Linked DNA regions of Homo sapiens. Each later gene encodes a partner of the first gene's protein in a complex. Each region holds a gene or a part of one and is shown on either strand. Other genes may lie near its edges.

Evidence for each region.
Region 2: SARNP (region 1) and THOC3 share a complex: the UniProt entries of both Homo sapiens proteins name them as parts of the transcription/export (TREX) complex.
Region 3: SARNP (region 1) and THOC2 share a complex: the UniProt entries of both Homo sapiens proteins name them as parts of the transcription/export (TREX) complex.

The regions. Positions count from the first base shown.
Region 1 is NC_000012.12:55,800,652-55,807,756, reverse strand, and holds part of SARNP (SAP domain-containing ribonucleoprotein), read left to right. Parts: intron 1-4,028; coding exon 4,029-4,128; intron 4,129-6,856; coding exon 6,857-6,903; intron 6,904-7,105. UniProt on the Homo sapiens protein: Binds both single-stranded and double-stranded DNA with higher affinity for the single-stranded form. Specifically binds to scaffold/matrix attachment region DNA. Also binds single-stranded RNA. Enhances RNA unwinding activity of DDX39A.
Region 2 is NC_000005.10:175,965,316-175,972,761, forward strand, and holds the start of THOC3 (THO complex subunit 3), read right to left. Parts: upstream 3,001-7,446; 5' UTR 2,894-3,000; coding exon 2,627-2,893; intron 1,953-2,626; coding exon 1,796-1,952; intron 1-1,795. UniProt on the Homo sapiens protein: Component of the THO subcomplex of the TREX complex which is thought to couple mRNA transcription, processing and nuclear export, and which specifically associates with spliced mRNA and not with unspliced pre-mRNA.
Region 3 is NC_000023.11:123,618,053-123,625,052, forward strand, and holds part of THOC2 (THO complex subunit 2), read right to left. Parts: intron 6,618-7,000; coding exon 6,489-6,617; intron 6,140-6,488; coding exon 6,008-6,139; intron 5,920-6,007; coding exon 5,735-5,919; intron 5,658-5,734; coding exon of another isoform or gene 5,592-5,657; intron 5,232-5,591; coding exon 5,053-5,231; intron 4,809-5,052; coding exon 4,706-4,808; intron 3,536-4,705; coding exon 3,105-3,535; intron 2,914-3,104; coding exon 2,855-2,913; exon of another isoform or gene 2,136-2,854; intron 1,466-2,135; coding exon of another isoform or gene 1,385-1,465; coding exon 1,349-1,384; intron 1-1,348. UniProt on the Homo sapiens protein: Component of the THO subcomplex of the TREX complex which is thought to couple mRNA transcription, processing and nuclear export, and which specifically associates with spliced mRNA and not with unspliced pre-mRNA.

The DNA of each region.
Region 1 (7,105 bases):
CTGCAAGCTCCGCCTCCCGGGTTCACGCCGTTCTCCTGCCTCAGCCTCCTGAGGAGCTGGGACTACAGGCGCCCGCCACCGCGCCCGGCTAATTTTTTTTTTTTTTTTTTGTATTTTTAGTAGAGACGGGGTTTCACCGTGCTAGCCAGGATGGTCTCTATCTCCTGACCTCATGATCCGCCTGCCTCGGCCTCTCAAAGTGCTGGGATTACAGGAGTGAGCCACCACGCCCGACCAAAAATTTTTTTTAATAGAGATGGCATCTCATGGTGTTTCCCAGGCTGGTCTCTAACTTCTGGATTCAGGCAATCCTCCCGCCTTGGCCTCACAAGGGGCTGGAATTGTAAGCATAAGCCACCAAGATCAAGATTGTTACTTAATAAATGGACATTAAAGATCACTTATAATGTTACTTAAGGCGTGGTTCACAGTCCTTGGGGTGCTGGTCCATGAACTAGCTGTTCCTGGTTAGTAGTGAGATAAATACAAAAACCGAGTGTAAGCTTTTAGAAAGTTTTATAGCAGTTTGATGTCACTGCTATATCCAAGTCACTACGCTCATTTTTGTAGTAATTGATTTTTATTGTTATTGCGAAAGTATTGCTCCGTGACCTGATTGGAATATTGTAAAAAGCAACCTTATCAGCCTACCTATTTAAAAGTACATTGAGCTGGGCACAGTGGTGTGTACCTGTAGTCCCAGCTGGAGGTTCGGGTGGGAGGATTTCTTGAGTTCAAGAGTTTAAGTTCAGCCCGGGCAACATGGCGAGACCACTGTCTCTAAAAATAAATAAAATAAAAAATGCATTGATTTGTGAAACTCTCAAATCTGAGACCAGTGATTTAGTACTTAATAAATATAAAGCATTTTTTGGCTGTCAAGCACTGTTCTAAATGCTTTATAAAATTCTTGATTTAAGGCCGGGCGCGGTGGCTCATGCCTGTAATCCCAACACTTTGGGAGGCGGAGGCAGGTGGATCACAAGGTCAGGAGTTCGAGACCAGCCTGGCCAATATGGTGAAACCCCGTCTCTACTAAAAATACAAAAATTAGCTGGACATGGTGGCATGCGCCTGTAGTCCCAGCTAATCGGGAGGCAGAGGTTGCAGTGAGCTGAGGTCGTGCCATTGCACTCCAGCATGGGTGATAGAGCGAGACTCCGTCTCAAGAAATTTTTTTTTTCCTTTAATTTATGGTTCACACCTGTAATCCCAGAACTTTGGGAGACCAAGGCAGGTGGATCACTTGAGGTCAGGAGTTTGAGACCAGCCTAGTCAACATGGTAAAACCCTGCTTCTAGTAAAAATACAAAAATTAGCCAGGCATGGTGGCACATGCCTATAATCCCAGCTACTCAGGAGGCTGAGGCAGGACAGTTGCTTGAACCTGGAACGCAGAGGTTGCAGTGAGCCGAGATCATGCCACTGTACTCCAGCCAGGGCACCAGAGCAAGACTCCGTCTCAAAAAAAAAAAAAAAAATTTTTTTTAATTTAGTCTTCATAACAACCCTATGAAATAGGTACTGTTATCATTCCCATTTCACAAGTAAGGAAACTGAGGCATAGAGAGGTGAAGTTATTCACATAAGGTTACAAGTAGTAAAACTGGAATTCAAACCTAAGTAGTCTGGCTTCAGAGGCTATGCTCTCCAGTCACTCTGCAGTCATTTTTTTTTTTAAAACTGGCAAAAGCCTTAAAAATAATTTTTTTTTTTTTTGAGACAGAATTTTGTTCTTGGCATCCAGGCTGGAGCGCAATGATGTGATCTCGGCTCACTGCAACCTCTGCGTCCCAGGTTCAAGCTGTTCTCCTGCCTCAGCCTCCTCAATAGCTGGGATTACAGGCATGTGCCACCATGCCTGGCTAGTTTTGTATTTTATATTTTTATTTTTATTTTTATTTATTTTTTTGAGACAGTCTCACTCTTTCACCTGCTGGAGTGCAATGGCACGATTTTGGCTCACTGCAACCTCCGCCTCCCAGGTTTAAGCAATTCTTTTGTCTCAGCCTCCTGAATAGCTGGGTGAATATAAGCACCTGCCACCATGCCCAGCTAATATTTGTATTTTTAGTAGAGACAGGGTTTCACCGTGTTGGCCAGGCTGGTCTTGAACTCCTGACTTCAGTTGATCTGCCTGCCTAGGCCCCCCAAAGTGCTGGGATTACAGGCGTGAGCCACCGCACCTGGTCTAGTTTTGTAGTTTTAGTAGAGACAGGGTTTCACCATGTTAGCTAGGCTGCTGTTGAACTCCTGACCTCAGATGATCTGCCCGCCTTGGCCTCCCAGAGTGCTGGGATAACAGGCGTGAGCCACTGTCCCTGGCCTAAAAATAATTTTTAATGGGTGATTACCTACCATGTTCCTCAGTAGAGGTTGCTTTCAGCTTGTTGGGTTGGGCAGTTCTGTTCATAGCATCCCTGCCTGCCCGCCCCACTCACTAAATGCTTTGCTAGTCGTTGTAATATGTTTTATTTATTTTATTTATTTATTTTTGAGACGGAGTCTCGCACTTTCGCCCAGGCTGGAGTGTAGTGGTCGATCTCAGCTCGCTGCAAGTTCCGCCTCCAGGGTTCACGCCATTCTTCTGCCTCAGCCTCCCGAGTAGCTGGGACTACAGGCGCCTGCCACCACGCCTGGCTAATTTTTGTATTTTTAGTAGAGACGGGGTTTCACTGTGTTAGCCAGGATGGTCTCGATCTTCTAACCTTGTGATCCACTCGCCTCGGCCTCCCAAAGTGCTGGGATTACAGGCGTGAGCCACCGCGCCCGGCCATTGTGATATGTTTTAAAAAACTCTCCACTTTTCATTATGAAATGTTCTCCTAGCTGAAAAACGTAGAGATGCAGAGCATCCTCCATAGTTGTAAAATTTTTTGTCTATAGGAGTCTGCCTTCTAGCTTCTACTGATTGGTCATAGATCTGTACTCCAAAACAAAAAAGGTCATCTTTCAGACCAAAGATCTATCTGTGTGTTGATCTGCATATAGAATTTCTGGAGCCTTTCTTTCCTGCTTGTTCTCCTGGGTCAGCATGTCGTTGTGCTTCGTAAAATAAGAGTATAGAGCCCAGTAAGGCCATTACATCGTTTATTATGGAGTCTATATTTCAGTTACCTATGACTTATAGGTAGCAAATCATACTGTTAACCTTCTTTGCCTAAAATTCTGATGTCTTTATCCTTTGAGTTACTATTGAGCCAATCCTCCCTTACCCAGTTTTTATATAACTGAAGTTTTGAATCTAAGTGTAGGAAGTTATATGTATACCTTATTCCTACTAAATTGAGTCTTTGTTTTGGCTTATTATTAGTCCTGAAGAAGTGTTTTTTTTTTTTTCTGTTTCCGTGTTGCATTTTTTAAGCTTAGTTATGTCAATAATCCATCAATTCTCCTTCCTCCTATTGTCTGTAAAATTGATGAACATAGCTTTTATATCTTTAGATAAGTTAAATCTTCAGCAGAACTCTATGGTATGCCATTAGATATTTCTTCCCATTTTGACACAGATCCTTTAATCAATTCATTGTTCACATTAGCTAATGCATCTACCTAATTCTATGGTGGTTAGACCTGTATGCATGTATATGGTAGATTGTAATAACGGATCTGGGATAATAAGTGGTAAGGAGAATCTGCTTTTAGATCATTGGATTTTCTACTTGAAGGTTCATTCTTCCAATATGCTGGCTGCCACAGTAGTCTTAAGAAAAAAACCTTTTTCCCCCCTCAGAATATTTAGAAATAACTAGAGATTTGTGACAGTTAGTAGGTATACAAATAGATGAGGTTTTTTATTAAAGTGTGATGTTTATTCTTCAGCATCTGTTAGGCAGTTCCTCTTGTATATTGAATATCGTTAGAGGAAAATGGATCATCTTTGTGGACCTAGAGCCTTGGTAGAATTAAGGGCAGTAATTTGGGATGGAACTTCATTTTCTTTTTTTCTTTTCCTTGTGGGAACTACCATTTTATTCACTGGTGTTCATCCTGTTAACTAAGGAAAAGTTTTATTTTTTTCCCCTCAGCTTGCCGAACTAAAGCAAGAATGTCTTGCTCGTGGTTTGGAGACCAAGGGAATAAAGCAAGATCTTATCCACAGACTCCAGGCATATCTTGAAGAACATGGTGAGTACTTTGTGGAGGCGGAGTGATGTGAGTGAGGGGATTTTCAGGCTTTGACACTGAAAAGATTTCTTTTTTTTTTTTCAGGTCATTAGCAATGTAAGCTCTTAATTAACGGCATCAAGAAAACTCTCTCTTTTTTTTTTTTGAGATGGAGTCTTGCTCTGTTGCCCAGGCTGGAGTGCAGTGACGCAGTTTCAGCTCATTGCAACCTCTGTCTCCCGGCTTCAACCAATTCTCCTGTCTCAGCCTCCCAAGCAGCTGGGACTACAGGCGAGCACCACCATGCCTGGCTGATTTTTGTATTTTTAGTAGAGACGGGGTTTCACCATATTGGTTGGGCTGGTCTAGAATTCCTGACCTCAGGTGAGCCACCCGCCTCAGCCTCCCAAAGTGCTGGGATTACAGTTGTGAGCCACCGCGCCCAGCCATCTTGTACAACCTACATCTTAGGTTGTACAAGTCCTCTATCTAATTTTTATTTACGTATTCCCTTTTATTTCTATTCCTCATTTCACTTTCTCCCCAACCCATTTAGGCACCCGTTCTAATGTGTTTGAATGTATTTTTTTGGTGTTTTTCCTGGTAAACTATGTAGTGTTGTTTTGTAGAATGTTTTCATTTATATAATTGGTAATTACATAACTGGCCATAGCCTTGCTTTATTTCTCATTTTTTTCACTAAGTATTGTGTTTTTTTTTTTTTAAAGATGCGTCCATGTGGAATGTGACTGTGTAGTTATCTAGTCTGTTGATTCTAATTCCTGCATAGCATTCAATGATGGATAACCACACATTTTACTTAATTCACTCGGTGACAGAAAATTTTATTGCCACCAAGCCTCTGCTACTATAAGTGATACTACTTATAGTATACTATATGTATATAATAGTATATAGTATATATTATACTATGGGTTGAGTGTTATATATTTGAAATGCTTGGGACTAGAAGTGTTTCAGATTTTAGTTTTTTCGGATTTTGGAATATTTGTGTATATATATAATGAGATATCTTGGGGGTGAGATCCAAGCCTAAACACAAAATTTATTTGTTTCTTATCCACATATCTGAAAGTAGTTTTATACAGTATTTAAAATAATTTTGTACATGAAACAAAGTTTTGACTGTGACCCATTGCATGAGGTTAGGTGTGGGGTTTTCCACTTGTATCATATCAGCCTTCAGAAAGTTTTAGATTTAGGAGCATTTTAGGTTTTGAATTTTCAGATTGGTGATGCTTAACCTGTAGGATATAGTATACTATATCCTATATACTAATAGTATATAGTATATTATTATGAACTACTTATTTTATGCTCTTATGTTCCTGTGAAAGTCTTTTTGGGGTATATGCCCAAGAATGGTATTGCTAATTAATATTCATAAATATATACTTAATGTGACTAAGGACTCCCAAATTATTTTCCAGAATTGCTCTGTAGATCTGCAGTCTCATTACTAGTACATAAGGGTTCTTGTATCTTCACAAACCTAAACTTGGCACTGTCCTATCAAGTGGCCTAAGTTTTGCTAATTTGTTGGCTGTTTTATGTTCTCCATGAAAAAAGTTTAAACATTTCACAATTCTTTGGGTTTCTTCTTTGCCCATTTTTCTGTTGAGGTTCCCATAATTTGCCTGTTGGCTTGCAGGCATTTCTTTTATATTCTAATAACTATTGTTTTGTTGATTTTAGGCACAAATATCTTCTTTGGCTGTGCGGGGTGGTTCATGCCTGTAACTCAGCACTTTGGGAGGCTAAGGTGGTATGATCTCTTGAGGCCCGGAGTTTGAGACCAGTCTGGGCAGCATAGTGAGATCCCATCTCTAAGAAAAATAATAAAATTAGCTGGGTGTGGTGATGTGCACCTGTAGTCCTACCTACTTGGGAGGCTAAGGCAGGAGGATCCCTTGAGCCCAGGAGGGGGAGGCTGCAGGGAGCTGTGATTGTGCCATTGCACTTTATCTGGGCGACAGAGTAAGACTCTGTCTCAACAAAAACAAATGTCTTGTCATTTGTCTTTTAAGTTTCTTTGTGCTATCCTTAAGTAGAAGTACTTAGTTTTGAAAAATCTTCAATTTTTCACCTCTTACTTTTGGTTCTGGGTTGTTTTTCTTTTAAACAAATCTTTCCCCACCACTAAATCTCAAAGATACTTTTCCACATACTTTTTTTGTTTGTTATTCAAGACTGGGTCTTGCTCTGTCACCCAGGCTGGAGTGCAGTGACATGATCTCAGCTCACTGCAGCCTCTGCCTTCTGGGTTCAAGTAATGTTCCCACTTCAGCCTCCCCAGTAGCTAAGACTATAGGCGCACACCCCCACACCCAGCTAATTTTTTTATGTTTTTTGTAAAGACGGGGTTTCGCTGTGTTCCCCAAGCTGGTCGCTTGAACTCCTAGGTTCAAACGATCCACCTGCCTCTGCCTCCCAGATTGCTGGGATTACAGAGAGCCACGGTGCCTGGCCCAACATTACTTTTAAAATTAATTCTCTAGTTTGACTTCACATTTAGTTCTTCAGTCCAACTGGAGTTCACATTTGTAATTAATGTTAGGTAGAAATCTGGTTTTATCTTCTCCAGATGTAGCAGATTTTATGTGCATCAGTTTCTGCCTTCACTGTTGGATTTTTTGGGGGAAAGCAAAGTGATTATAATTTTAACCTTGGTAAGTGATCAAGATGGTTTTGTAGCAGGGCTTGACCTGAATATTTTAATATTCTTTAGCTGAAGAGGAGGCAAATGAAGAAGATGTACTGGGAGATGAAACAGAGGTGAGTTGGATAGAGTAAGGTTAGTCTCTGGTAATGTGCCACTGCTTTGGCCACATTGCTTTAACATCAGTCATTGGAGGACTTAGATGTAAATTTATTAGGGGAGCATAAGATGGGTATGAAGGTTCTGAGAGACTGGTTTATTTTGGAGTTCTGATGTTCTTCTTTTGATAGATATTTATTCTTTAGATTTATGTTAACC
Region 2 (7,446 bases), on another chromosome or scaffold:
CCAGAACTTTCATCTACACATTTCCCCATTTGGTCTTCACAATACTCCTCTAACATACACTTTATTATCTCCATTTATAAAATCTATAAGATTTTATAGATGAAGGAAATAGGAGATAAGACGACAAGCCAAAGTGTCAAAGCTATGAAGTCACAGAGCTATGAAGTGGCGCAATCTCGGCTCACTGCAAGCTCCACCTCCTGGGTTCACGCCATTCTCTCGCCTCAGCCTCCCGAGTAGCTGGGACTACAGGCGCCTGCCACCACACCAGGCTAATTTTTTTGTATTTTTAGTAGAGACGGGGTTTCACCGTGTTAGCCAGGATGGTCTCGATCTCCTGACCTCGTGATCCGCCCGCCTCGGCCTCCCAAAGTGCTGGGATTACAGGCGTGAGCCACCGTGCCCGGCCAAGCCAAGATTTTAAACCCAGATTTGACCCCAAAGCCCCCTTTTCTCTTACACCAGCATTTCTCAACTCCAGCCATTCGCATGCCAACATCACAATTTTTGTCCTATCCATTAAACACTATACTTTTCTTTATTCAAGATTTTTCTTAAAATTGATTCAAAAAAGTTTACTTAAATAAATTTAGCAGCCAGCTGTGGAGGCTCAAGCCTGTAATTCCAGCACTTTGGGAGGCCAAGGTAGGCAGATCACTTGAGTCCAGGAGTTCAAGATCAGCCTGGGCAATATGGCAAAACCCGTCTCTACAAAAAATTAGCCAGGCATGGTGGCATGTGCCTGTAGTCCCAGCTACTCAGGAGGTTGAGGTGAGAGGATGGCTTGAGCCCAGGTGGAGGCTGCAGGGAGCCAATATTGTGCCACTGTACTCCATCCTGGGTAACAGGGCAAGACCCTGTCTCAAAAATAAAAATAAAATAAAATAAATAAAAATAAAATAAATTTAGCTTCAACTGAATAATAAATTCTATGTGCTAGTTCTTCTAGTAGACATTAAGATATTTGCAAAACTGGTTTTTAATGTTCACCCACGCATCACCTGAATCACTCATGGATCAGCAGCTGTATACTTGGGGAAAAACCACACCATTCCGCCTCCAGAGATAAGTCTTGTCAACAAAGTCCAGTGGCCCACACTGAACACATCAATTAAAAATCTCACCAACTTTTTCCATTCTAAAACGCATATTTTCTCACATTTTAGTATCTACACTGTATCTTAAAATGTATCAGAAAGCATTTCAAAATTTTGGGTGTATCACAGTTATTTACCAACTTTCTTTCCTAATGGAACATCTTACGATCAATGAAAACTCAGAGTCCCATACAATATCGGCCTCAATACTTACAACAGAGCCTATAAATGTACTGCACAACTTTCTCCCAGATCACCAAGACCATCCAAGTTTCAACCATTCTAACTCATCAGAATTTTCCAAATTCTCCATGCCTTTGCACATGCCGTTCCCTCCTGGAAATGTCCCATTCCCCACCCACAGCACCCTGACCACTCAACTCCTATGGCTACCCTAAAAGTTTGCTCAAATTTGGTGAGGCCTTCCCTGGCTCCCCTAGGCAGACTTTTGTTTTCATTTCTATTCTGGGTATCCACCTTGCAGACCTCTCCATTATAAAATGAACCATATCTTGCTATGTTATTTGTATATATATGTCTTCTCCCCGCAGGGGAGGTCCTTGGAGCTGGAAACTCTTATTCAGCTCAGGATGTCTCATACACAGCTGAGTGCCAAGCACAGAAAAGATATTCGGAAAATGGTTGTTGAATGAATCCAAACAGCTTATCTTCCTATTGCCCTCTCTCTGAATAGTCACCTTTAGTGTTCACAGTGGCAATGCATTTTGTAGTCCTCACATCCCAGATGCGAATGGTTTTATCTCCGGACGCCGTAACAAATAGGTCAGGATTACTTGGATGCCAACAAAGCTGGTCCACACTATCCCCATGTCCCCGATAATTGTTTTCTTTGACCTGAAAGAACAGAATCCAGATGTGACTTCACATAGATGTAACTGCCTCCGCATGTAACTTTATAAGCTTATTCAAACCAAAGTATGCTGGGACCAGTAAAGATCTGGGTAATTCAGAATCCAGTTCCTCCAAGCCCTTTCTCCCTTCTCTTCTCCGCAGGCCTTCTGAACTGTTTTTCTCAGCTTCCACACCTATGCCCTTACTTTTGTGCCCTCCCTGGCCTTCTCCTCCTTCCTGGTTTTCCACCCTTACTCTACCACCAACGTACCACCAACGTACCACCACCAACGTACCACCACCACCACCACCACCACCACCACAGCCCCTAGCCACTTCTTATCAGCACAGGATTCGACTCCAAACCAGTAAGGCTCCCATCGCAGCCCTGTCCCATCCACCCTCTCCTCACCTTCACCCGCCATCGCCAACCTCCTTACTTCCACACTCTTCACACGCCCCCAGTCTTCCTCTCCTCACCCCTCACGACCCCGTCACCCCCACACTCCACCTTCTCCCTACTCCCTCCTCATCTCCACACTCCCCCTTTCCCCTTCCCTCAAACCCACTCTCCTTTCACCCCCGCGGCTCCGTTCGCCCCCATTCGCTCTCCCACTACCGCACCTCACTTCACCACGGCCCCTCTCCCTAGCCTGAGCCGAGCCCCGGCAGCTCACCAACCGGTCCTTCTCCAGCAAGAAGACGCTGGCCGTCTTGTCGAAGGACCCCGAGGCTAGGCGACGCCCGTCGCAACTCCAGGCCACCGAGTGCACCTTGGCGCTGTGCGCCAGGAACTCGCGCGTCTTGCTGTGGCCCCGGAACAGCTCCTGCATCCCAAGCACGTAGCGCGACGGGCCGCTGCTCACTGAGCACCACGGGGCCATCGAGCCGGGGCCGCTCTGGCCCAACGCCGAGGGCCCCATGGCTGCAGCGGGGACCGCCATGCCGAGCTCCCCAGCTTCCAACTCACAACACTGCAGCAGCCTCCACGGCGCAGTCAGTCCTGGCGCCGCTGCCGCACGCATGCGCCCGGAAGAGCGACGGCCCCTCTGCGCAGGCGCGCTGTACCCCGCCCCGGAAGGGACTACAAATCCCGGTATGCAGCGCGTGCCCGCGTCTGCTTACTTAGTAATATTTGGTTCTTTTAACTCCAAATATGCTTCACACTTAACGATTCCGAGTTTTTTTAGTGTTCTTATTTCTCCCTTACCTATTCTTTGGTAGATATATGTGTATTCCTGTTTAATCGAATAAAAGAACCAACACTAACCTTCTAAACAGTTAACTCATCACCTTTCTTCTGGGGTTGTTCCGTAATCCCTAGTCCCCTCCCTTAAGAGCAGAAAGCTCTGGTCTTTTTGCTGGAGAAGGACCAGCTGGTGAGCTTGTCCCATGAAAAGGGCTAGCGGGTGTGGAGTGAGGGAAGAGGTGTTAAGAAGGGGTCTGGAGGTTTTGTTTTTTTTTTTTAAATAAAAATGGATTTTTTGTTTTTAAAAGGTAATGGCAGAGGCGTGTGAACCAGAGCAACTCTATCTTAAATAGGAACTGGGTAAAATGAGGCTTAAACCTACTGGGCTGCATTCCCAGACTGTTAAGGCATTCTAATCACAGGATGAAATAGGAGGTCAGCACAAAATACAGGTCATAAAGACCTTGATGATAAAACAGGTTGCAGTAAAGGAACCGGCCAAAACCCACCAAAACCAAAATGGCGATGAGAGTGACCTCTGGTCATCCTCACCTCTACACTCCCACCAGTGCCAGGACAGTTTGTAAATGCCATGGCAATGTCAGGAAGTTACCCTATACGGTCTAAAAAAGGGAGGCATGAATAATCCACCACTTGTTTAGCATATCATCAGGAAAAACCATAAAAATGCGCAACCAGCGGCCCTCGGGGCTGCTCTGTCTATGGAGTGGCCATTCTTTTATTCCCTTTACTTTCTTAATAAACTTGCTTTCACTTTGCACTGCGGACTTGCCCTGAATTCTTTCCTGAGTGAGATCCAAGAACCCACTCCTGGGGTCTGGATTGGGACCCTTTTCCTGTAACAGTATTACATGCACATGATTGTAAATATAAAAATAAAAGATATAGAGTGAAAAGTAAATGTCCACCTGCGTATCCACCCCACCTCTCATATCTCCCTTAAACCAGTGGCTTCTTGCTGGAGAAAAAAGGGGTGGTGAGCTGCCAGCGCCAGTCAAGGCCCTGGAGAAGAGCTGAGGGGGGAAGGTTTTGGTGGTGAGTAGTAGTGGTAAATGTGTTTAAAAACCCAATTTTTAAAAGGCAACACGTGCACTTGGTAACAAATGTAAAATGTATAAAAGGGAATAGATTGAAAAGCTTCCCTCCATCCTGTGTCCCCAAACTTCTCTTCTGAAAAAGTTAAATTTCTTGTGTGGCCTTCCAGAGACAGTGTAAGTAAGCACCTGGGCAAGGTAGATAGGTGTGTGCATAACCTCTCCCAACACACTGCCAAAAAGGTAGCATTCCTTACACAACTTGCTTCCTATGGTAAATATGTATAGGAAATCATTTCTTGTCAGAAAATGCAGACGTCTCATTCTTCTCAATGGTGGCAGTCTTTATATGAATATATAATATTCAACTGATCCCTTCATGAATTTGCTTTTAGAACAATATTAGAACAATATTGCAGTGAATATCCCTATACAACCTTCATTGTGCACATCTGCACTTTTTTATTTGGATATATATTGCCAAAACACCTATGAAGAGGTTTAATAATTTATACTTCCACCAGCAACATAAGAAAGTGTCAGAAGGTCCTAGGTACTAAATGAGTACACATATAAAGCATATGGCTCTCAGAAGGACCGTAGGAAATAAGGTCCCTATCTTTCCCCAATCTTTTCCCTACCCCATTGCAACCAGAAATTCTTGGAAACTACAAAGCTTTTCAGACTCCAAGAATACCACTGAAGTCTCTAAAATCTTGGAGTAGGAAACTATTTGGTGTCTAGTTTTCTTCCTTACCCCTCTTTTTCAGGAATCTTCATATATATATATATATTTAGATATTTTTCCTACATTTTCCCTGTATTTTGTATTTTTTTTTTTTTTTTTTTTTTTTTTTTGCTGCATACACTGAGGATTTACAAGTCCCTGCCAAGATACAAAAACTGAAGTAGAAAGAGGTAAAATGTCCTGGTCCAGGTCACATGACTATCATGTGACAGAGCAAAGGTTAGAACTCAGATGTTACTGACTCTAAAATCTACACTCTGATTCTCAGTATCTGAAATCACGTAAATGTGATTCTTTGTATTTCTGCATTCATTTTGTATTTTTGTATGTAATGTATATTTTTTATTTTTTAATTTTTTTTTGAGATGAAGTTTTGCTCCTATTGCCCAGGCTGGAGTGCAGTGCGATCTTGGCTCACTGCAACTTCCGCCTCCCAGGTTCAACCAAGTCTTCTGCCTCAGTCTCCCGAGTAGCTGGGATTACAAGCACCGCCACCATGCCTGGCTAATTTTTTGTATTTTCGGTTGAGATGGGGTTTCGCTATGCTGGCCAGGCTGGTCTCGAACTCCTGATGTCAGGTGATCCACCCGTCTCTGCCTCCCAAAGTGCTGGGATTACAGGCATGAGCCACCGCGCCCGGCCTGTAATGTATGTTTTTTACTTAATTTCCCCTTGTGTTCCTTTTCTATATTCTGTATACATGGATGTTAGAAACTCAGTTGTGATAAGTATATCCGACTGCTCTTGCCTGAGACAGAAACTGGTATAACATTTCAAGTTGGACTAGCACACATCTGGGGGCAATGTTGAGACTGAAGTCAGAGTCTCTCAAAGGGGAGATAAAATTGAGGGGAACAGAGTCATGGGCCATTTTTTAAAACTTTTTATTTGGAAAAATTCAAATTTACAGAAAAGTTGCAAGAATACTAAAAAGCACTGCTATTCCTGTGACACAGATTCACCAAATTGTAGCATTTTGTTCCACTTTTTTTCTTTTTTTAGTTTTATTTTTATTTATTTATTTTTTTGAGACACAGTCTTACTCTGTCACCCAGGCTGGAGTGCAGTGGCGCGATCTTGGCTCACTGCAACCTCCGCTTCCCAGGTTCAAGCGATTCTCATGTCTCAGCCACCTGAGTAGCTGGGATTACAGGCATGCACCCCCACACCCGCTAATTTTTTGTATGTTTTGTAGAAATGGAGTTTCTCCATGTTGGCCAGGCTGGTCTCAAACTCCTGGCCTCACCCGCCTTGGCCTCCCAAAGTGCTGAGATTACAGGCCTGAGTCACTGTGCCCAGCCTCCATTTGCTTTCTCTACATATATCTACGTTACTACTCTTTTGTCTAAACATTTGGCAATTGTGCATTAGTCCGTTCTCACATTGCTATAGGGAACTACCTGAGACTGGGTAATTTATAAAGAAAAGAGGTTTAATTGGGCCAGGCGCGGTGGCTCACACCTGTAATTCCAGCACTTTGGGAGGTCAAGGCGGGTGGATCACGAGGTCAGGAGTTCAAGACCAGCCTGGCCAAGATGATGAAACCTCGTCTCTACTTAAAATATAATAAAATTAGCCAGGCGTGGTGGCGGGCGCCTGTAGTCCCAGCTACTTGGAAGGCTGAGGCAGGAGAATGGCGTGAACCCGGGAGGCGGAGCTTGCAGTGAGCCTAGATTGCACCACTGCACTCCAGCCTGGGCTACAGAGCAAAAAGCTGTCTCAAAAAAAAAAAAAAAAAAAAAAGAGGTTTAATTGGCTCGTGGTTCCATAGGCTGTACAGGAAGCATGGCTGGGCACGTCTCAGGAAACAGAGAGACAGGGAGGTGCCACATACTTTTAAACAGCCAGATGTCATAAGAACTCAGTCACTGTAACGAGAACAGCAAGGGGGAAATTCGCTCCGATGATCCAGTCACCTCTCACCAGGCCCCTCCTCCAACACTGGGGTTTACAATTGGAAATTTTCTCAGGGACACAAATCCAAGACATATCACATTGTAAGTTGCATACATCTTACCCTTTACCCCTAAATATTTCAGTATTTCCTAAGAAATAGGATGTTCTGTTTCCTACCCCCAGTATAGTTATCGATGTTGGTAAATTGAACAGAAACATGGAATTTTATTTAATCTACTGTCTGTATTTCATTTGTGTCAATTTAGCCAGAAATGTTCTTTATAGCCCTTCTTTTCTTTCAGTACATGTTCCAGTCTAGAACCTCATACTATATTTAGTTATTATATGTCCTTAGTCTCCTTGAATCTATAAAGGTTCCCCAGCATTTCTGTGCCTATTATGACATCAACATTTTTGAAGAATGCAGTTGATGGACCGTTTTTACAGTTCCTTCTCTCACCTAGAAATTCTCTCTTAGGAGCTGATCAAAATCAAACTAAGAAATTTTTTACACATGTGAGTCTTGGGGACTTCAGGGTCATTCAAGGCAGAATCAGGCCATAAATAGTAATGCCAGAGATGACAGGATGTGTAGAGGGACAGGGGAAA
Region 3 (7,000 bases), on another chromosome or scaffold:
TAATTCCAACCTGATATCAACATTTTTGTAACTCCTACTAGGTATGGAGAACTCTGTTAGTATTGTGACGTTATGGCTAACAGCAAAAAAACAAAAATACGTTGGACGTTTAGAATTTTCAAAAATAATGTCATTAGGTTGATGTTGTGTCTAATGTGTTATTTCGGCTTGTTCTTCAATAGCGTATTACAGAATAACCCCGATATCTACTTCAAATAAAACATCCATTCAAATCAGAAAAAAAATAAAACTAAATGGAACTTCTCCCAGCATAGCTGAGACTTTTGATTAATATAGTATATTCTAAAAAACAATGCTACAATTTTAGGACACAGGTACACTGGCTAATATAAACTTAAAAATTAGTGCCTTATTTGCCCAATATCCACAGACATTTCATTATAAATCTATACATCTAAAAGCAGTTAGTAATGTCAACTGGCTCTGTTTCAAAATTTCATTTGGTCCACCAGTAAAGAAATCATGCTTAGCTGATTTCTATTTTAATCATGGCAAGCAATATTTATGCTGAAAAATAGGCTTCATTCTGCTGAGCAGATTCATTTGCTTGTAGCTTGTAAGAGGAGGCAAAGTAGAAAATCAAAGAAGGGTACACGTTTTATAACAAAGACAAAACAACATGAACAATGGACAATTCAAGTATAATACTGAAATAAACTCTGTAATAAGATACACAAACTGCACACTACTTTTAGTAGCAGAATACTCAAGAAAGTAGAATAATAGGTAAGAATTAATACTGACATGTAAACACAACCACCGAGTATTCCTGTCCAGGGGAATGATTCTTTCACATTAACAGTATCTCCTGATATTGTGCTGTAACTACCAAAAAGGTACCTCAGCAGAGGATATATAAAGAATTTTTATAGATTGAGATGAGTTCCATTTTTAAAACAGATATGTGAATGCATCAAATTTATTTTTTGGTATTTTGGGTTGTCTAAACAGTCAGACAGCCTGGCAGATTTGTTTTGAAAAATTAAATAAACCCAAAACAATCAAATAACCTCTTCCCCGAATGTTAAACTTATTTCCAGATTTTGAAAAAGCATAAAAGGAGAAGGTATAACACAGCAAGCAAGGAGAGATGATAGAAATGTTGCCACATTACACACATTTTATAACAATCTCATTAAAAGGGACCACTGTCATCTGTTGTTTCAGTTTTAACATTTAATATTTTTGAAGGTTATTCAATGTAAGCAGAGTACTTTATCCCACTGATCTCAGCTTACTGAATGTACTAGGGTGAGGACATCTACTAAATAAAATAAGTAAAGAACATTTGGTTTACTTAGGCATGATGATTTTAAAAGACTCAAACCTTTGCTGAAGATTCCTTGAGTTCGATGAGACTGTCCTGTAGAAAATGAATGGAGATGACAGGTGAGCTGGCATAGTTCTCAGAACCCAGAGGAACTTTGGGAAGTATGGCTGTAACCTGGAAATAAACCAGCTACTTCTTGTGAGGATAAATTTCATGATGTCATTATCAATATGAATATCAACAATAAAAAAAAACATGTAATGGAATTGGAATGTTAAAAACTAAATTAAATGTACTCAATGTAAGAAATAAAAATCTTTCTCTGCTCAGAATTTAAAAATAAATGTCAATGCCACATTGTTCATATCTCTCTACTTAAGCTATAGTTAAGAGGTTTAAGAAAGCAAAACATTTTTTTCTCCACAAAAAATTTAAAATACTGGAGGTCACTGTGGAAGAACAACATTGCCTTATATTTTTCATAGTTCTTCTTTAATTGGGAGGATTCACATTTTACTTTATTTTTAACTCTAATATGAATATACACATCCTAGCTGAAAAATTCAGTGGCATTGTATTAACAAGAAAACAAAATATATAAGAGTAATCACTTTTTTTTTCTGCAAAGTGCCTATCATGGTGAATCTCACACCTCCCACACACAAAGAAAGCATTAAAAAAAAAGAAAGAAAAAGAAATCAACTACGATATTCCACCACAGTGCTCTTGATGAACAATTAATAACTTACAGTTTTTTAAAAGTTCAACGTACTGCAAATTCAAAGATTCCATGAAATTAGATGACTTTAGAATTAAAATTAAATATGGAGCAAGGAATGGCTACCCTGAGTCTTCAAGAAGGCTACACCCACGATTTTGTGCTGCAGTTGAATGCCTGGGGTTTCTCTTTGCTGGGTGGTAGGATTGGATGCCACATCTGCTTTTATCGTAACGCAAGGTTCAACTTGTTGGGAACCCAATGGGTATAAACAAACCTCCAAGGGAAGATACAACAGAAGCTGCATGCTCACTGAATATACACAACTACAGGAGAACTGATCACCAAGGAGACTTTAAAATGGAACTCCTTTCAAGACTCCTTCTTAGAAGGCACACATCGGTATGATGCTCATCAAGAAGCTTGAATTCAGAGGTAACTTGTTTATCTTGTGTCATCCAGGAAGTCTTCAGTGCTATATATTCTTCAATATGCTGAAAAATAGGCTTCATTCTGCTGAAAAGATTCGTTTGCTTGTAGCTACCATTGCACTCCAAAAAAGACTGCTTAAAGCAGTTGAGGCACTTCTGGGTAAAATTTCTCTTGCACTTTGAAACACTACAAAATTAGTGCTAAGTCCTTGAAGTTTTAACATTTTTATAATAAAAATACTCAATAGGAAAAAAAATCAGTCCACCAATATAGAAAAATTCATTTTCTAATGCAATATAAAACCTCCAGTGGCTCCAGTGAATGCTTGGCATAAGACTTGAAGGAAGTCAGGACACTGGTATTCCAAACAGGTGAGCCTAACATGGACGCTGCCTTCCTCAGGCTATACTAACCTTTACTGTGGAGGAATGTGATGGAGAAGGGTGAGTATCAATTTTGCGGCGTTTTTGTTCTGTTAAGACAAAAAGAAATAGTCAGAATAAGGTACATTTCTAGTTTTCCAAACACTTAAAAAAAAACACCAACTTGTATGACAAGTTCCCCTAGCAAAACCCCTATATAACTTACCAAAACAAGGAGACAATAACCAACTATACATTAAAATAACAAAACGTAAGAACGTATAAAGAAAGGTAAACTTGCCCCTTTCAGGCTCTGGAATATCTGATCTGGGAACAGGTGATTTCAAGGACCCAGAAACTGGTGTTTTTTCTCCTCCTTTAACATTTTCCTTTGATTTCATTTCCTTTGCTATATCTCTTTCTCTGGATGGCTCCTTCTCTCTTTCCCTTTCTTGAGTTGATTTTGATTCTGCGTTGGGGACAGTGGTCTTAAATTTCTCATCTTTAGCTTTTTCTTCCTTCTTGAATTTTTCTTTCTCTTTGTCAGACTTCGGCGTTCTTTCCTTGGTCTCTCTTGCTTTTTCATCTTTATTTGGCCGCTCTTCCTTTGGTTTTTCTTTACCATCTTTACCAAGTACCCTGGCCTCTGGAGTAGTAGCTGGAGTCTTTTCTTTTTTCTCTTTTTCTTTCTCTTTCCCTTTTTCTTTGTCATTTTCTTTAACAGCTTTGTTGCTTAAGAATAAAAACATGGGATTTTAACACAAATAATCATAAAATATATCCTTTGATATATGATAAAATATATCATAAAGGGTTTCTTACTAACTTCAAAAATACTAGAACTAAGGGGGAGTCCTTTGAAAACTAAAGGACAACTTTAAGACAAGGAAAAAGGAAGAAGTAATGGTCGGGTGCAGTGGCTCACGCCTGTAATCCCAGCACTCTGGGAGGCTGAGGAGGGTGGATCACTTGAGGTCAGGAGTTCGAGACCAGCCTGGTCAACATGGTGAAACCCCGTCTCTACTAAAAATACAAAAAACTTAGCTGCGCATGGTGGCGGGCACCTGTAATCCCAGCTACTCTGGAGGCTGAGGCAAGAGAATCACTTGAACCTGGGAGGCAGAGGTTGCAGTGAGCCAAAATCACACCACTGCACTCCAGCCTGGGTGACAGAGCAAGACTCCTTCTCGAAAAAAGGAAGTATTTCTTTATCCAGTAAATCATAAACAAATTCATTAATTGCAGATTTAAAAGATGTATTAGCCGGGCACGGTGGCTCACACCTATAATCCAGCACTTTGGGAGGCCAAAGCAGGCAAATCACGTGAGGCCAGGAGTTTGAGACCAGCCTGGTCAACATGGCAAAACCCTGTCTCTACTAAAAACACACAAAAAATTAGCCGGGAGTGGTGGCACACGCTTGTAATCCCAGCTACTAGGGAGGCTGAAGCACAAGAATCGCTTCAACCCACAGCAATCCCTCTATCCTAAAATATTTGTTTAACTTCACACCTACATTCCCCTGAATATCCCAGAAGGAGAAACAAAGTCGTTATACAAGCATAACTATACAAAACATAATTAGGATGTAAAGCGTATCAGCAAAATAGGGTACATACAAAATTTCAAAGCCCAACATAAATGACTTTTCACATTACTCAACAACCACTCCCCTTCTACTCATGAGGACTCATAGAAGAATTTAGAATTATGAGGGCCAGGTGCAGTGGCTCATGCCTCTAATTCCAGCAGTGTGGAAAGCCAAGGCAGGTGGATCGCTTGAGGCCAGAAGTTCGAGACCAGCCTGGGCAACATTGCAAGACCAACCCCGTCTCAAAAAAATACATAAAAATCATTTTTAAAAAGAATTTAGAATTATGACACATGGCACAGTGTTCCTACCTGTTAGAGCCACTATTTCCATTGCTTGAATTCCCTTTAGGTGTGGTACTAGAAGCTTTATTAACAGCTTTCACACCACACTGAGATCTCTCCCTTGATTTATCTGAAATAAAAGTAAGGTTTTATTTAACAAGCCCCTAAATGTAAATAAGCTACAATTTCAGAGCAAAATGATTAGAGAATAATTAGAAAGAAACAGCAAGCTGATTACTTCTTAACGCTTATATACTCCTATCTAGGGAATAAAAAGTAATACTAAGCCAGCATTGTACTCGTTCTGTGATACAAAACATTTCACTTTGTTGAAATAAAATATATTACTTATAAGTTTCTACAAATAAGCATACCAGTCTCCTCAGTACTGCTTTCATCCGATTTAGATGCACTTCCTATTGATGATGAAGAAGGCCCACCACCAGGCCCATTTTGCACACTGGCAACTGCATTCCTCGGAGGGGGGTCTTTGTGATGAAACTCATTTTCAGGTATCATGTATGACTTTCTACTTTTCAACTGCCCAGAGTAGCTGAAAGTCGCACAAAGTGTTTAAATATACAAACACAAATCAAAAAACATAAACATGAGGTTTTTAAGAATAAAATTAGCAAGTTATTCATTCTACTATGTGGTTCTAGAGAATTAAAAAATACCAATTTTTAATAAGTTCTTGAAGGTTTTTATAGAACGCCCAGCTTTCTTAAAAATTACAATTTCACTATAAACTAATCCTTAAACTAAGATGGCTTTTTTTTTTTACTCTTGAAGATCTGTTAACTATGATGATAAAATTATATTTCCTCCCAATCAAGAAATATTATACATGACTTTAAAAAAACTATCATCCAGTATAGACCGGAAGTTGATAATCAGAAGTGGTAACTCTCACCAGCCTGTGGAAACATGATCGCATAATCTCCCATAATCTCCTGAAGGCAGAAGATAAACTTCAACACTGTAAAACATTTTAAAGTCTTCAGAATCCTTCTGTCATCTAGTCTTGTAAATCACATTAAAATATAATTTTGTTACCCCATAGCCAATGCATATAGATCTGGCCTCTTCTCTTTTTCTTCTTGGCAGATTTTGTGTACTCTTCTTTCCAAAGCTTGACCCAGATTCAAAACTTTTGGGTACCAAGGAAGTATTTTTGTTAGCACAATCAAGATATTCCTGATGTGAGTATATTCGCCTGTTTCAAGGCAATGTACCGATGCCTACAACAAACATTTTCAGATCCATTATTATAAAAGCACAAGTATACAGAGAAAAATTTGCCTTTGAAAAATCCAATTTTTTTTTTACCTTGGTTAGTTTGTAATGCCATTTATGTACAACATGTCGAAAATTTTCATAGTCTAATTGATCAGCCTTATTTCCACCATCAAATCCAGTTGCCCGTAATATGGTAAGGAATCCTGGATAGTTTCCACATTCCTAAGGAAACAATGTTTGTCACTTTTAAAGAAAAATTATGATCCACAAAATAGCAGAAATTGAAACTTAAGTAGACTAGATCAATGTTTCCGTGTAAAAACATCATGCGTATTTGGATAGGTAGTCACAAAAAGTTCAACTTATACAAAGATACTAATTTGGAATGTCAGTTTGAGATAGAATAAAAAAGTACATAGCACATTTTAATAACAAATTAATTGTGCTTATAAACACAGTTTTACAACTGAATCTTAAACTCAGCTTCTCTTTTAAAACTCAACTATCTAGATATTAATGGATGTGGTCATTATATACATGGGTAAAATATAAGGGTTTTTATTAGTCATACCTTTTCATATGTGGCTCTATCACTATGCCACCTGGTCACAGTCTCTAACATGCAGCAAAGAAACCTTCCGTATCGACTGGCTTCATTTTCAGTACAGCTTGCAACTGTGTAAATTATGTCAGAGAAAACCTACAGGAGAAAAATGTTTAAAAAATATAAACAAATCAAGGTCAAAATCAGTTAAAAATATTAGAAGATTCTCTTACAGCAAGTCATAATAAACAGGTAAGCCTAGTCAAAATGTATATTCCCTTTATATAATGACACTGCAGAGAACTTTGGAGATTTTGGCTTTTGTGGGGAAATAATGCATTCATAAAACAACCACCCAAAACAAGAACTTTTATAAAGAAAGCTGATTTACAGTGACAAGGAAAAAAAAATTTATCATTATTATTACATAATAAGTTGTTTTTTTTTTATTACATAATAGTTTCTTAACCACTTAGCCATACATATTACTGGGTTTACGGGGAGAGTAAGCAGAGGAAATGCTGATAGAAATTAAAAAT